Regions from separate parts of the Homo sapiens genome. Here region 2 is linked to region 1. A link means that fine-mapping ties the variant in region 1 to the expression of a gene that starts in the linked region. Tissue or cell type: whole blood. Region 1 holds a variant in brackets; the other region holds the start of a gene. All regions are shown on one strand. Distances are from middle to middle.

The links. PIP is the estimated chance that this variant, and not a neighbour inherited with it, causes the effect.
Region 2: NGLY1 starts here. The variant in region 1 is fine-mapped to the expression of NGLY1 in whole blood (INTERVAL, PIP 0.98). The same link has a PIP of 0.9 or more in fibroblasts and skin.

What each region holds. Positions count from the first base shown.
Region 1 is chr3:25,901,044-25,909,151 of GRCh38, reverse strand. The region is part of intron 1 of LOC124909357 (a long non-coding RNA gene); the gene reads right to left. Among named protein-coding and RNA genes, the nearest start is that of LINC00692, 31 kb to the right of the region's middle. RefSeq lists an enhancer at 2,423-3,088. The variant CT/T (reference allele first, on the strand shown) is at 3,662.
Region 2 is chr3:25,780,170-25,788,277 of GRCh38, reverse strand. NGLY1 (N-glycanase 1) reads left to right here and starts at 4,835. Exons shown (of 12, transcript NM_018297.4): 1 at 4,835-5,018. The coding sequence starts at 4,888. RefSeq lists a silencer at 4,646-4,885 and enhancers at 5,196-5,245, 5,406-5,485, 6,873-7,042.

The DNA.
Region 1 (8,108 bases):
TCATCTGAAATACCTATAGTGGAAAACCAAGTATGATGAACAAAAGAAAGAGCCCTCATCTAACAAAAACAACAAGGCAAACACAATGAGGAATGGCAAATAACAGAGTCCCAGTGTTGGGAAGAAAATGGACAATAATGAGGCCTGTGGCAAAATCAATTTTCCTTCCCTATCCTAATAAAGCAACTGCTACTGAGCAATGGCTTATCTTTTTCACACAAGCACAGCCAGCATTTTCAGATTTTTCTCATTTTTCCAAAGATGGTGTAATTCAGATTTTCACATGAAATCTCTTGATTTTTTAAATTTTGGCAATCATAGCAGAGACACGATTGTTGCTACCTCGCAGCCATTCCTGACCCACTTAACCATCACTCACCTCCTGTTGCAAAGTCTGAAAAATCTAGTCACTCACTTTCCAAGACCTCCTGTTTCTAGTAATGGCTATGCATCAAAGTTTTGGCCCTTAAGGAATAAAGAATAGTTATCTGGGGAGATTGTAAAGAAAGTTGTTCCAGAAAGATTTTTTCTCTTCCCTGATAAAAGATGAGAGTGACATGAGGACAGATCATATTCACTATTTTGGCTCTCACCCTACATTTGCCTTTAGTTAAAGTCATTTATGTGACGTTATGCCTGGAGATGTGGTAGCCATTTTACAACCATGAGGGTAGAACAAGAGAATCATGGAGATGCCAACCTAGAGCTCTAACATAGTTAAGCCACTGATCTAATTCTAAACACATCTATCACTATTATTTTTAATGAGATGATAAATTCATTTATTAGCTAAAAATTGTGTAGAATTTGTTTATAATACTGTCAAGAATGCCTAAAATGTTCTAGCTCTTAACTGGGCTTATAAAGATTCAGTGTGACATCTTTCAAAAATTTCCACCATAGGTCACATGAATCTCTTTATTCACTCTTCTATTATAGTTTGGGTCATACCATACTGTTTAGAACTTTTTTGATAACTGTGTTATGGGTGGTGATTATAAGCTGTTAGACAGCTAAGCCATTTATGCCAATTTATCTGGGAAAGAAGTCATAGCAAATGGAGCATCTTTAATCACAATGGCCAATTTAAGTGATGGTGCTCCAACTTCAGAGGAGAAGCATGTATTTGTGTGAGAATCTCCTAAGAGATTTGGCTTTTCTTCCTGGAAAAATGCACTTTCTCACATCACACTGAGTTCTGAGTATACCTCCGTGGGCTTCACAGATTCCCAATCAGTTCAAGGCAAATTTAGAAGGAAACTTATTAGACCTGGGAAACAGTGAATGGGGACTGGGAGCAGAATCCAAAATAAAGTTTGGGAATAGAGAATAATCATTTTCCATAAAAATGTCTCTGTGGCCACCTGAGATAAACTCAATGATAAACAGACTTTCTATGATCTGTTCTCTGTCTTCGGATACAAATACAGCCTCAAAAAGGCAAGCCTTACATTACCTGATCATCTAATTTTATAGGTATAATACATAGCTATAATGTATAATACTGGGAAAAAATAAGCCAGTTTAAGAAGACATTCAGCAAAGAGGTAGAGAGAAAAAGAGGCTCTTGGTTTTGCCCAATCTGAGCATCAGACTCTTGACATATAATAATCACTGGGCAATGTCTCTATACGCCTCTTTCTGGAAGGAGCTTTAACATGGACTTTGAATTAAATAAATTTAAGTGTTACTAATTTTGTGTCAAGACTAGTTTTCTCTCGATTCTCTAGGCTTAGAGTATATATTTCTATGTTGATTTGTGTCTTAAATAAATAGCAAGAATTTTACTGCAGTATTGGTACAAAACTCTGCTCAGTGAAGCCAAGGGATCTGACAGGCAAAGTTCCAATCTCATCTTGGCACAGCCAACCAGCCAAACAGCATGTAACACTGTGATAATTTGAACATTTTCCTTTTCGAAAGCATATGATTCACAACAGTGTTTTTCTCTATCTAGTTTTTATCTCTCCTGAATCTCAAACATCTTCTTAAGTAAGGACTATTTCACAATCCTATTAAAAAATGGAAAAGCTGGTCACCTTAGATGAAAAAATATTAATGTAGTCCTAAAATTTCCTGAAGGAGAAACATATAAATATAGAAATATCTTCAAATATCTAGAGATTACTTCTTCTTGAGTTTACCAAATTCCGTTCTGAATATTTTGAGTTTGACTAGTGATGAGGACTTACAGCCTCTGGATAAAGCCAATGAAATCTGGATGTTTCTAGCTAATTAAGGAAAAAGCTCCCTTCAAAATTTTTAAATGAGAGGAAGCCTTGGATATAGCATTCGCTTTCTGTAGAGAGAAAATAATTTGCTAAGTGAAAAAAAGGAATTTCCAGAAAGAAATTACTAACATCATGTTCGTTTAAATTATTTTTAGACTCAGCATTAAAGACCTTTTGTTGTCATGTGTAAGCCAATGAGCACAAGATTAAATGCTGAGTTAACAAAAGTTAAACTGACTTTTCATCGTTTACTTACATCTTTAGTTACTTGGAAACAAAAAAAAATGATTTTTTGAAAAATAATTCCTTGAAGTCATGCAATTTAATGTAATATAGGAAGTATAAACAGAACATTTTCAATAAACTTCTCATAAACATTGCTCATCCAACAGCAATGCCCCAAGATTAGTTCAGTCATCACCTGATTTGTCCTGTGTGCCCATCTTTCACAATACCCCAGGACAGACAAAACTCCTAGAAAAGGAATGTGGAGCCCTAGAGTTTGAGACCTCCTGAGCTGGAAAAGTACTTGATGACATTATAATGACATTACAAAAGCTTTATACTATGAAAGCCACTAAAGAGCCTGAGTCCTCAAAGAATTGCCCATCAATGAGATCAGATAAAGGCAACATTGAAGAAACATCCTTGCATACTGGAACTTTGCCCTCTAGCCCCATCTCTGCTCTGGTATTTATTATTATCCATGCTTGTCATTGCCGTCCTGGAATCTAAATTATCAATTTAACATAGTGTATATTAGTGGGTTTGTAAAACCTAAATTCAGTTCAATTTTTCTGCATAACAAATCATCTCAAAACTTAATGGTTTAAAACAATCCTGTATTAGGACTCAAGAATCTCTAGGCCATCTAGATGGTTCTGCTCATTTGCCCAGGCTTGGCTAATCTTGGCTAAGCTCTTTCACATGTCTGAAGCCTTGCCTGGGAAACTGGGTTGACTCCTTGCTGGCCCACATGGTATCCCATTCTCCATCAGACTGCCCAGGCTTGTTCACATGATGGCTGGCAGCATTCCCAAAGAAAGAGTAGAAACCACACGGCCTCCTGAGGCCAGGCTTCTAAATCACACTTAGTTACTTCTCTGCATTCTATTTGTCAAGGAAAGTCATAAGTCCAGCCTAGGTTCAAGTTTTAGAGAAACAGAATGTACCTTTTTATGGGAGAAGCTGCAAAGAGAAGGGATCGCATTGCAAAGGGAAGGGTATAGAAAGAGATGAAGAATGGCAGCTATTTTTGCAGTATGACACAGAAACAAGTAACTCTTCTAAGCAAAAATGTTGTTTCTTTGTTGGGGGTTAATTTGGAAGGAGGGGAGGAATGATTTCTAACACCAAAGGGTCTTCACCAGTTGAGGCATATTAGCCAGGTAAAGCCAGGCTTCCAGCTCACCAAACTCACCAGTTTTCCC[CT/T]CTGCATTCTGTTGCCAAGCATGCCCATTCCCATCCAACAATCTTTAAGTTCACACCCAGGAAGGAGAGTTTGGAGGACAGTATTTGTTGAAAAATACTTTAGGCAGCCTCTGGCCTGGAATGCATCCACTGAACTGGAAGATTCAGTAAGTTGCTACAAAAATAAAATGCTCAGTGAACAAATGAATGCTTGGCTCCTTCTAATGAAAGGGGCTGGAGAGCTCAGGAACTGGCAGAAAAGGTCGGTGCAAGAACAGAGTCCTCAAGACAGTACTACCAACTCGCAGCAAGACTCCAAGTCCTCAGGGAAAAAGAGGAGGAGAAGAAAGCCCCTGACAGAAGGAAGCAGGATACCCGTGAAAACAAAGAGAAGATGAAAAAACAAAGAGGCAATAGAAATCTGGAAGACCAAAAATAAAACGTCTGAGTTTTAAGAAAGTTTAAAAATACTAGTTTTTCTAGAAAATAAATTACTAGTATGCATGCCAACTTTCCTGATAATATATCTATAATATTTGGATATATAACAACAAAAATAAATAGTTCTTTGATATTGGAAGGGTTTTTCCCAAGCTATCAATTACTCAGTCCTACTCTTTTTCTTCTATTTCCTCCAGTCTAGGGTTCTTTGTCAGATAAATGGAGACTCACAGAAATCCAATAATAAAAGAAGATAGCAGGGAATAGTAGACATTATTGACTACTATATATGAAAAGTTTTATCTATGTTAAATGTTAGCATCCTAACAATCCATAGAGGAAGATATCATTGTATCCCTTTGACAAACTCAAAACTTTAGGATTAGAAATGTAAACTAACTTTCACAAGGTCACCCATTTGGGATGTCTTGATTCACACCCATTTCTGCTTGCTCTCAAAGTCCGGTTGCTTAACAAGTTTTCTTAAAACTCTGAAACCAATTAAAGGCCTTTGTTTCGGTGTTGGGATAACCAGCACCAGCAGGACTGTTGAGCTGGCAAGCTGATGTGTCAGGTTAATGACAGATCCTAGGCTTGAACCCCTTCTGCCACCTTCTGGTCTAAGGCTTTCCCTCACATCACACTCCTAAGCAGGGAAATTCAATCAGTTAATTTATTCATTTATTCCAAATTTGCTTATCTGCAGCTGCTGTGTCCCATGTGCTGTGTGAGGTGACACAGAGGGAACAATACACAGAGTTCCCAGCACTCATGGAACATAAGACCCGGCAGTCCCAAGATAAATGCTGGATTGGAAGGAAGCCTAAAACAGGCAAAGTTTGGGGACTCAATTATCCACACGATTCTTAATTCTTCCTTCTTTCTTGTTCCTTTGATGTTTTGTTCTTCATTCCTTAGGTCGCCCCTTTCACAGTGCTTTATAACAGCAGACTTTATACAGTGTTATTCAATGACTCAAACAGAACTGATTTGAGTTCCCACTCCCCACATTCAAGACTTTCTTCTGTAATTAAAGGTCTGAAATATACTGAAAACAACAGCTCTGAAGTTCTGAAAGTCCTGAGTACAGTACCTATTATCACAGCAGTTCCCTAATCCCTTCAGTATGGTAGTAAAACTCATTGCCAGGAATTTTTCTCCATAGGGTGCTTACTGAAATATCTCATTTTTGCTGTAGTTTGATGTTTTTTTGTTTCTTTAGCACTATGCTAATATGTCTAGAGGGAGTTAGGCTAGAGTAATACCTCCAGAGAGCAAAGCTTGAGACAAAGGCTGGGTGCAGATGGTTTGAAGAGAGGCAGCCCCAGAAAGCAGAAGTGAGGGAGTAGGGAAAAGACAGTACAATCCATGTGTTAATCTGCTGATTATTGCTGTGGGCAACTACAGCTCACTCTCACTGAGGCTCCTCTGGGGAATGGCGTGGGCCATATCTCAGATTTGTCTCACCAGAGGACAAGAAGCCTGAGACATTTATGCACTGATTCCCACCAGCCTTTGGAGCAAGCCTATCTCATAGGGCATTCGCTTCCCCAAGCTTCCAGGTTGTGTCTGTATATGACTGATCAGCCTTCTGCGCTTTCACAAAAAGCACTCCAAGGCAGCAGAGAGAGGTCACATCCTGTGCTTGATGAGGGATGCTGTTAACTCACATGGAGCTGTCCACCTAAGCTGCACTAAAATCAGGTGGGCTAACAGGATGAAGCTCGGTGCATCATAAGCGTCTGCTAGAAGTAACGTCGATGTTTTTAAAATGGTAATAAGTATAGATACAATTTAGTAACTTGTAATTTACAAAGTGCCCTACACATACATAATTTTATCTGATTCTCACAGTAGCCATACTATGAGATTGGCATTATTATTATTATCACATTTTCCTCATGACATTCTGAGGATAAGAGAAGTCAAAAATGGTAAGAATATCCCATCCTACTTAGAGTTCTAATCTGCTTCTGCCAATTATAATTGATTGAATCAGAATATATTAGTTTGAATCATCAATACACCCTACACCTACTGACTTGAAAATGCTACACAGAATTTTTTAATTTTCAAATTGTTTCAGAACCACAAACACCTGCACTAATAATGCTCCAGAGAAAAGTCATCAACAACTTACATTCTTCTTATCTTACAATACATAAATTAGAACTATAGAGTCCAAGAAATAATTAACAGGTTCCGGTTTATCTTAAAATAGTCCCCAGTATAACTCATGTGGCAATTCCAACAATATGAATGTTTATTACTCATGCCAAAAATCCTCCATAGAAATCTGTTGCTGAAAACATTATGTGGCCATGTTCCCATATGCAGATACGCTTGTTTTTCTCTGTTTCATGCCAGGGTACTTAATCCAGTCATCATAATAATTGCTGTTTTCTCTGCCCTCTTTATATAATTATTAGTGTATGAATCTGAAAGAAACTTGAGATTTTTAAGAATATAGGAAAATCTACCAGAAACATTAATAGAATCACTCCCACATTTCACTTCTCTGATCTTTGCTTTTTCAAAAAATAGGCAACTAAGTACATTTCTCCTGAAATGTCACTGTGCATTTAAAAATATTCCAAGATGATATTTATTTTTATCCCTTATCCTCTCTGTAGCCAAATCTTACTTAGCAAATTTTGTACTTTGGTAATACAATCATAACTTCATTTACTTTGCCTACTAGCAAATATGCATATGTAACTCACAGTCCTTAAAAATAGAGTAGGTGATTTAACCTATAGAATGTGAGTTTATTCCAAATAACAGTAAAAGCACAGTAAAATTTTTGAAAAAAGAGAAAATATCCACTCTATAGGTCTGCCTTCCTGTCATAAAGTGAAAAGACAAAATTTTCCTAGTTCTTCTTAATAATAAAATCTGTTTACTACTATTCCCAAACAATTCTGTTAAATGGTGTGATGGAGTAACATTCCCACCAAAAGACAAATATATCTGTGTCACCATTTTCAGTTTCTTGATTATAATTATTTCTTACTGCTCGGCTTTGATGTATTTTGCAAACCACATCAGGGCCAGAGAGCCTCCTACCAACTTCCTCTCAATGTTTACAGAAAGGTTTACTATGTCTCTCTCTTCATCCTTTGATATCAGAAAGGTTCAGTCTACAAAACCAGGAGGATTAAAGGGCTGCTTATTAAGAAATTATTAATAACCAAGTTCTGAGCAAAGTCAACACATCAAGTTTGACAGATTTGTACGTGCCTCTAATATATTTGCTTAACTGCAGAGAAATGTTTCACCCAAGCGATCAAGCAAATAACTCATTAAAATGTTCAAAAGACTAAACAGCTTTTATTTTAGACTAAACTAATGAGAAGCAGTTGTTTTCCCACCATATGCGTGAAAACTTCAAGCATCACTTGAAGAAGGCAGATTTGGATCTTCTAGTCTACCTTAAATCCTGGTGGGATAAAGAAGCTTCCAATATTGTTGCTGAGAATCAATTGGTTTTCACAACAAAAGTACAAAACAAAGGTTAAGTTCTAATGATTGCAAAAACAAGGAACTGAAGTTGCCTACAGAAAGCACAGCAATGGGAATACCATAGTACATTCCACATGTCATCCTAGGACATTATTCTTGAAACTACCTATTTCAGTTGGAAATTACACTTTGTACCATCATATTTCTAATACTTCCAATAAATAAAGCTTCTTTGCAAGTGAAAACATATATAATCCCATTAGTAGAGTCAAAAAACATCTTATCCAGTATTTTGGGGTAGCTATACTTAGATAATAGACCACCCCTTATTTCTAGTTTCACTCATTTATGCAAATATAAAAAAGTACCTACCATGTGCCAGGTACTCTATGATGCACTGGAGATAAGAAAATAAAGAATGTATAGTCTCTGAAGTGGAGGAGAATCACTATGCAACAGAAGACGTAAACAGATGAAAACCACGGCAAGTAAAACATGCCCCAGTGAAGCTATAGGCTAGATGCGATGAGAGACCAAAGGAGGCAATAATTTAGCCTCTGACCA
Region 2 (8,108 bases), 120 kb after region 1:
CTTGCCACCCAGCAAACTGATTTTCTCACTATACATGTCTTGATTGACCCTAACTTTTCTCATCTCTGTGCTTTTGCTATTTTCAACAACCACTCATTTTCTTCCTATCAATGCTTGAAGTTTGAATGCAAAAATGAGTAGAGGTATGGCTCTTGCTTTCAAGAAGTTTATGGTCTAGTAAAGGGAGACACCCATAGAAACAAGTAAGTGCAAACTGTTGAAACAGGTGCTATAGTGGAATTATTATAACACAAAAGGGACAATGAGGTCTGTGCTACCTCGTAAAGTCAGAAAAGGCTTCAGAGAAATGATCCTTGAACTGCATCTTGGAAATGAATGTTTGTCTAGTAAATTGGGTGGGAAAGGGCATCCTGGCAGGAGGAGAACAAAGGCCTGGAGAAATGAAGTGTCATGGTATCTTCCACAAACAGCTAAATATGTGGCCCATGTCAAATTTGAAGTGTGGGACAAAGCAACAGTAAACGCATGAGAGTAAGGCAGGGCCCAGATCACAAAAGCCTGGGGTATCATACTGAGGACTTTGGATTTAATCCCGTAGTTCAGAGACCATATGCTAGCCTTCATGGTATAATTTGGAGTGCAACATTCTTTTATTGATTCTAAACTCCTCTAGAAAGGACATGGTAAACTCTCTCATTCCCTTCACTGGAGTCTCTCTTACTCCTCTTTGTCTTGAACAAAGCCACTTAAAATATTTAACTTACCAGCCTGGTTCCTGACACCATTTGACTTTAGAATGTGGATAGAGGGAGCCATAGAAAACTTTTTACCAGGAGAACAACATGATCAGATGGGTGCTTTAGAAAGATCACTATTGCACAAATGAGCAGGGTGGGTTGGAAGGATGTGGAAATGGACACAGGGAAGAAAGTTAAGAATGGATGAAACACGAGGCTCTGAAGGCAATGGCAAGGAGAGATCCAGGAGATGTTGAGAAGGAAACGTTACTAGGATATTGTACATGATTTAAGGAGGGTGGGGAGTCTCTCACAGGTAGCAAGTCCTCTCCTTTCTCACCTTCTCAACCTCTCAATTTAAGGCTTCTGTTCAAGTTGTCCCCCCTCACTGAAACTGCAGCCCACAGTGAAATTTTCCTCCCTCTAAACTAGTAGTTCTCAAAGTTTACTGTTAATCAAAATCACCTGAAGGGCTTGTTACCACACAGATTGCTGGGTCCCACCTTTAAATGTGGAGCTTCAGAATTTGTTTTTCTGACAAGTTTCCTGCTGATGCTGCTGTTGCTTGTCCAACCACTGCTCTAAACTTATGACTTCTATGAAAGTAGGGACCATACTTGTCTCCTTCACAGTGCTGAGCAACTAGTAGTCACTTCATAAATACATGATGAATGAATGAATTATGGAATGAATAAATCAACATTTATCCTTACATTTGATAGTACACATGCACTTTTTGTGCATTTCTCACCAAATGACTTTTGCGAAAACCAATGCCATAGCATTAATATTGTGATAACAATGTACAGTCCATAAAATCATGGAAATCACCATTTTAAAAAAATCATCTGAAATTTAAGTCCTTCCAAATAACTCTTTAGCAACACTTCTGTTAAAGTTCTTGAGTAACTGTAATCTCTTTTGAATATTGCCATTTATAAAGCTATTAAGGGAATCCATTATATAAAGGGACTTGGTCTCTCATTTTCCTGGCTGCTTCCCCCACTTCAGTCAAGTTGGAGATATTCTAATTCTTCCATTTCCTTTAGAAAAGCTGAATAAGCTACCCTAACTTTTATACCCATCGTTGTTTCAAACAACCAAAGAATGGGTACTAAATCAGCATTGAAATTCTTGTTCTTTTATTTATTTATTTTTGTTCCAAAATAAAGATTTTTTTTTTCCCCAGGATTTCACCTTTATTAAAAACATCATTTTTAGAGTTGACATATCATGGCGCTATTCTTTTTTTTTTTTGAGGTAGAGTCCCGCTCTGTCACCCAGGCTGGAGTGCAGTAGGGCAACCTCAGCTCACTGCAACCTCTGCCTCCTGGGTTCAAGCGATTCTCCTGCCTCTCAGCCTCCCAAGTAGCTGGGACTCCAGGTGTGCACTAACACGCCTGGCTAACACTATTCTTTAATAAAACAAAAAAGAAAGAACTCTGTAAATTTTCCCCACGATTGGTTTGGTGATATTAAAAAGTTAACCTCCATAAAAACCATTAGCAAGGGGAGGAGTTGAAGTCTTTCAGGAATTTGTATAGTGATTCACTATTGTGTGACTACATTGAGTGATTAACCAACAACTCTATTCAGTACCTGCTGTGTGCAAAGCAGTCTGAGACAGATGGCACAAGAGACTTTTAATCAAATAGGGAAGACAAAACTAATGATAACTTACAGTGAGATAGCGTTTTAGTTGAGGAAACAAACTATTATGAAGAGAAAAACAAAAGTCATTTTGTTCCCCCACAAAAGTACCCTATGACCATTCTATCTGTCAGGGGAAAGCCTTAGCTGACAGCTTTCTGCCCTTCACTTGACACCTCTGCTTCAATACCAGAGCATTTCCACTTTGGTGTTTTGTATATAGACAATCTTCCTATGTTTTTGTTTTTGTTTTTTTTTTGTAGAGATGGGGTCTTGCCATGTTGCCCAGGCTGGTCTTGAACTCCTGGGCTCAAGCGATCCACCTACCTCGGCCTCCCAAAGTATTGGGATTACAGGCGTGAGCCACCATGTCCAGCCCCTAAAATTTTATTTGAAAAAAAAAAAAAAGTTCTGTTGCATTTTTAAAAGTTACAAGTACTGTATAATATATACTATTCTCATATAATTAGTAAAGGATAAATAAATGTATCAATGGAAAAAGAAACCCAAATTAAGAGGAATAAAGTTTGTGATAGCTATATCTCCAGACCCAAGCCCCCAATCCATTGTGTAGTTGGACGAGACTACATTTCCCAGACTCTCCCCTTTTATCTTTTTATGTGTTTTTAAATTTTTTTTTTATTTTTTGTAAATCTGGCCTTACTGAAATACCCCCTTTTATCTTGATGAGGCCTCATTCTTAGTAATGATATGGTAGAGAAAATGCTGTGTGTCATTTCTGGGCTCATGTGGTTAAAAGTAGGTGTGACTTTTTTTTTTTTTTTTTTTTTTTTGTCCAAGCAGGCTGCCTGGATTTGTAAATAAAATTTCACTAGAACATAACCATGCCCATTTATTTTCAAGTATTGTCTGTGGAGCAACAGCTGCAGAGGCAGAGTTAAATAGTTGAGACAGACCTTATGGCTCACAAAGCCTAAAACACTATGTGGCCCTTTACAGAAAATGTTTCTTGACCCCTGTTCTAAGGTATGGAAGGAGACTGGGTCCACTGACATTATGACACCTGCATTATTAAAGTGTTATATGAGCCAGAAAGAAATTACTCTTGTGTTAAGCCCCTGAAAATTTTAGTTACAGACGGTAGTAACATACTACTATCTGTTGAACACACCATACTTGGAAGGTGGTCCAAAGATTTACATATTTATTAAAAGCGTACGTATATTTGGGAGACGAATAGTCATTGAACTGGATGTCATAGCTTAGGGTCTTGTTCGGAGATTCTGGAAGAAAATTTCAATTCTTAAAAGTAAACAGATGAAACATCAAGAAATTTAAAAGAGGTTATTCAGGCAAATCACTTATCTTAAGAAATAAAGTCAAGAAAAATACTTCGTGAGGTTGAAAAGGAATTTCTGCAAAGAAGGAAGCCACTGGTAAAGTACACTTTCAAGAACATGGTGGGGAAGAGACTGGATTAAAGTAGTAAGGGATGCATCTTCTAAGAGGAATAAAAGACCTTGATCACATGATCTACCTAAAAAACAAGTCACAAAATATTACTTACCCTTACTGTGTGGGATGCAAATTTTTATTCCCTTCCCGCCCCCGACATTCTATAATATTGCGTAATTATTATGCATGTGTTTTACGCTGGTCACCACGCGGTAAACCGAATCCACAACCCATTATTATGTCGCAACCTATGGTTTAAAAATACACTTCCTTACAGAGGAATCATATACTAGTTGAGCTGGAACTTAGATTTTCAGTCATTAGCCAAATTCTGAAAAGAATCCATATAACAAACCCAGCAGAGTTTATAGCCATGGTTTTGTTTTTGACGTTTGTTGCTCCTTCCTTCTGTAGTCTTTCATCCACATCTATGTAGAACGTCCTGACAATCTGCGAAGAGAAGGCTCTAAGGTGGTTTTATTTGTGGGGAAAGGAGGGAGGTACATGCGGTTTCTCCACCTTAATAGCTGGATCAATTAGGCTGGCCCCGGAGCGCAAAGGGATCCGGGTTTCTGAGAGGCACGTGCCAGCACCATTCGCCCGATACCTCTAGACCAAAGCCGGCCTCCCCTCCAGCCGAGCTCCTCCGTCCTAAAGGACTCGACATCCCCCTCCTCCAGGCCCACACCCCTCAGCCCCGGAGCCCAGGCCCCGCCTCTCCCTGCGGAACCCCTTCCCAACCTGTACGACCAGGCCCCAACTCTGGGTCGAAGCACCTCGCCCCTGCCGGCCGAGGCCCCCCACCTTCTTCCGAACAGCCCCTTGCCCCCCGCGAAGGGGCAGCCGTAGCTCCCAGCCGAGCTCCCCCGCTCCTGGCCCCGGTCCCCGACCCCGCCCCAGGCCCCCGACCCCGCCCCTGCCGGCCGAAGACCCCGCCCCTGCCGGCCGAGGACCCCGCCCCTGCCGGCCGAGGACCCCGCCCCTGCCGGCCGAGGACCCCGCCCCTGCCGGCCGAGGACCCCGCCCCTGCCGGTGGCTGCGGTAGCTGCTGCGCGCTGAGGCGCCTGCTCAGTGTGGGACGCGGAGAGCGAGGGGCGGCGGCGGCGCCCGCTGGCGCTCAAGCATGGCGGCGGCGGCATTGGGCAGCTCCTCAGGCTCGGCGTCCCCGGCCGTGGCTGAGCTCTGCCAGAACACCCCGGAGACCTTTTTGGAGGCCTCCAAGCTGCTGCTCACCTATGCTGACAACATCCTCAGGTGCAGGGCAACGGGGTCGGACGGCGGGTACCGGGGTGGGTGGGCCGCGGCACCTTGTTCGGCCAGGGACTGGGGCGTCCGGCCTGAGCTTCAGAGGGCAGCGACGCCCGGACAGACCGGGACCTGGAGCTGGTTCTGCTCCTAACGTCCGAGCCCGCCGGCCAGGGGCCTCGGGACCCGGCCAAGTCCCACCCCCGCTCGAGAAAAGGAAGTTTCTTTGCAGTTGTGACTTGGCACCTGCAGTCAGGGTGCTGCGGGTGAACTGGAGTCCCGGAAGCGGGGCCGGGCGGAGGAGAGGTAGGAAGGCGTGCTTCAGACACTGCCGCTCTTCTCGTCGTTTAACGGCCTCAGATATCGGGACACAACGGTAACCGCACCGCGCGTGTCATTCCCCCTGCGTGCATTTTTCGAGCGGAGTGGCTTACATTTCCACATACTTATCAGAAGTTACTCACTGACAAAGTGATGTTTTCTTCCCATGTTGAGACTATCCGAGTACTAAAGCATAATGCTTCTGAAGTGGTGGGTTTTAAAATTTTTAATTTTTTTTCTGCCCACTTTTGTTGATTGAAACATTATAGTATTTTGAAGTTACAGTTTTTATATTAATACCTGGATTCTACTATGTAACATAACCCTTTAAGAATTCGTGGAGGTAATCGCCTTGGATGAGAGTAATTTCCTTCATTCTCCTGTCAGCAAAATTGCACTTCTAGAGGTCTAAGGGACCTTGCAGATTTTGGGAATTGGGAGGCAAGTTTGATTATTCATTTTGAATAAGTACCCACCTCAACTCTTCAGATCAAATGATCTGAAGGGACATGGTGTGGGGGGGTAGGGAAATGGAACTGAGGTTAAAGGAGAGCCACTTGCTTTAGGGGTGTTACCTCATTTATCAGGTCACCGTGATTAATTAGGTTCTCTGTTCCCCTCAGCCCCTGGTGCATTAAGTGTTTGGTATATTGTCATGAAGTCTAAAAGGAAATTCTCAGTTTCAAGGTTATAGGTTTCACGTGACCCAATTTTAGACATTAGTTACATGTGCAGTTTTTAAAATCCATGTCAGTAATATTTCATTTAGGCAATGGTAATGATTTTTAAAGTAAATTGAAGGGAAAATATATTGAGCCCTTATTTTGTGGCAGATGCTATGAAAGATGCAACATGTGGCCTGTTCACAGCTACATAATTGTGACCTGTGTGGGGACCACCTTCGTGCTCTGTGACACCTTCTCAACTCACCTTTTTTACTCTTTGAGGCCTTACAGCTCTTCACAGTACAAGGATGCCAAGGGACTCCATAAATGAACTGATAGGCTGGGTTCTCCAGAGCCCATTAGCTGAGACTTACCACCTGGAAAGCCACCAGGCTATTTAAAACCCCACTAGTCAGAAAAGAGAGGTGGCCTTGTAATGAAGCCTCACTTCTGCTTTAAATCTAGTGAAACCCAAAATGCTGAGGTTTAGTATGAGGGGGAAACCTTTGCATGCAAATAATGACATTTAGCATCATAATCTTCATTATGAATGTTTACTAATGGCTCGTTGCTGATTTTCGTTTTTGAGACGGAGTTTGCTCTTGTTGATGAGGCTGGAGTGCAGTGGCGCGATCTTGACTCACTGCAACCTCCGCCTCACAGCTTCAAGATTCTGAAAGATGAGGGGTGTGACAATGAGCGCAAAGGATAGTGGACACACTGGAATAATGCTGAGAAATTAAGAGTTTAAGAAAGTCTTTGTGCGTTGCTTTTCCAAGGATAGGAAAGAGGATATGATGGGTTTGAAGTCTAATGTCCCTACAGCCCTCTAAGTCTTTGAGGGCTTTAGGGTCAGGCCTTTGGTATCAGTCTATACACAAAACCACGGTCAGTTTACTCAACATACTTAATAAGAAAAAGAATTTGAGGAACTGGATGTGACTGTCATTGCTGGAGCCTGTTTGCAGTATACTTTTACTGAGAAAAATAGATTAATGTGAGGTCCAGAGATGATATAAAAATAAAATTGCTCACTGGGCACGGTGGCTCACACCTGTAACCCCAGCACTGTGGGAGGCCAAGGTGGGCGGATTGCTTGAGCTTAGGAGTTTGAGACCAGCCTGGGCAACATGGCTAAACCCCGTCTCTACAAAAAAATTAAAAAATTAGCCAAGCGTGGTGGCAGACACCTGTAGTCCCAGCTACTTGGAGGGCAGAGGTGGGAGGATGGCTTGAGCCCATAATCATGCCACTGCATTCTAGCTTTGATGGCGAAGTGAGACCTTTCTCAAAAAAGAAAAAAAAAATGCTCACTAGAAACTAAAGAGGAAAATCTATATTGTATATCAATAGTTAAATGGTAACAACATATATCAAAATAACAAAGGCCAGTCGAAGTGGCTCCAACCTGTAGTACCAGGGCTTTAGGACACCCCAGGTAGAAGGATTGCAGCCGGGGCAACACAGTGAGACCCCATCTCTTAATAAAAAAAAAAAATAGCCAGGCGTGGTGGCTCACCTGTAGTCCTAGCTACTTCAGAGGCTGAGGCAGAGGATTGTTGAGCCCAGGAGTTCTAAGCAGCAATGAGCTTTGATGGCGTCATTGCACTCTAGCCGGGGTGACAGAGCAACACTTTGTTTTTTAAAAAACAAAACAAAAACTATATGAGAACTGATGTGTATTTTATAAGAATTTTTAAACAATTGTGAAAGCAGGAAGAAACTAGAAAATTAGCCCAGAGAAAGACCCAGCATGTAGAGATCTGAAAGCTGTGAGGAAAAGAATAGATTAAAATAGCTCAAGCAGTTTTGAACCAGTAGGATATATCATCCTGGTGGTACTGACATGTTTATCACCCTGTGAAATACATTGAGTGTCAGGAAAAGATGCCCCATTTATCGAAAACTAGCTTTGATAAATGTAGGATTATTTTATAGTTCAGTTTTCTTAAGTGATAAGAAAGAGAGGCTCACTTGTGAGACAGTGTAGCATGGAAGCCAGGAATGCGAATGTTCTGCAGTGCACAAGGAAACTCCACTGAGAAAAGGCCCCACATGTTAATGGTGCTGAGACTGAGAAACCCTAATCTAATACACAGAATAAAGAGTTGAG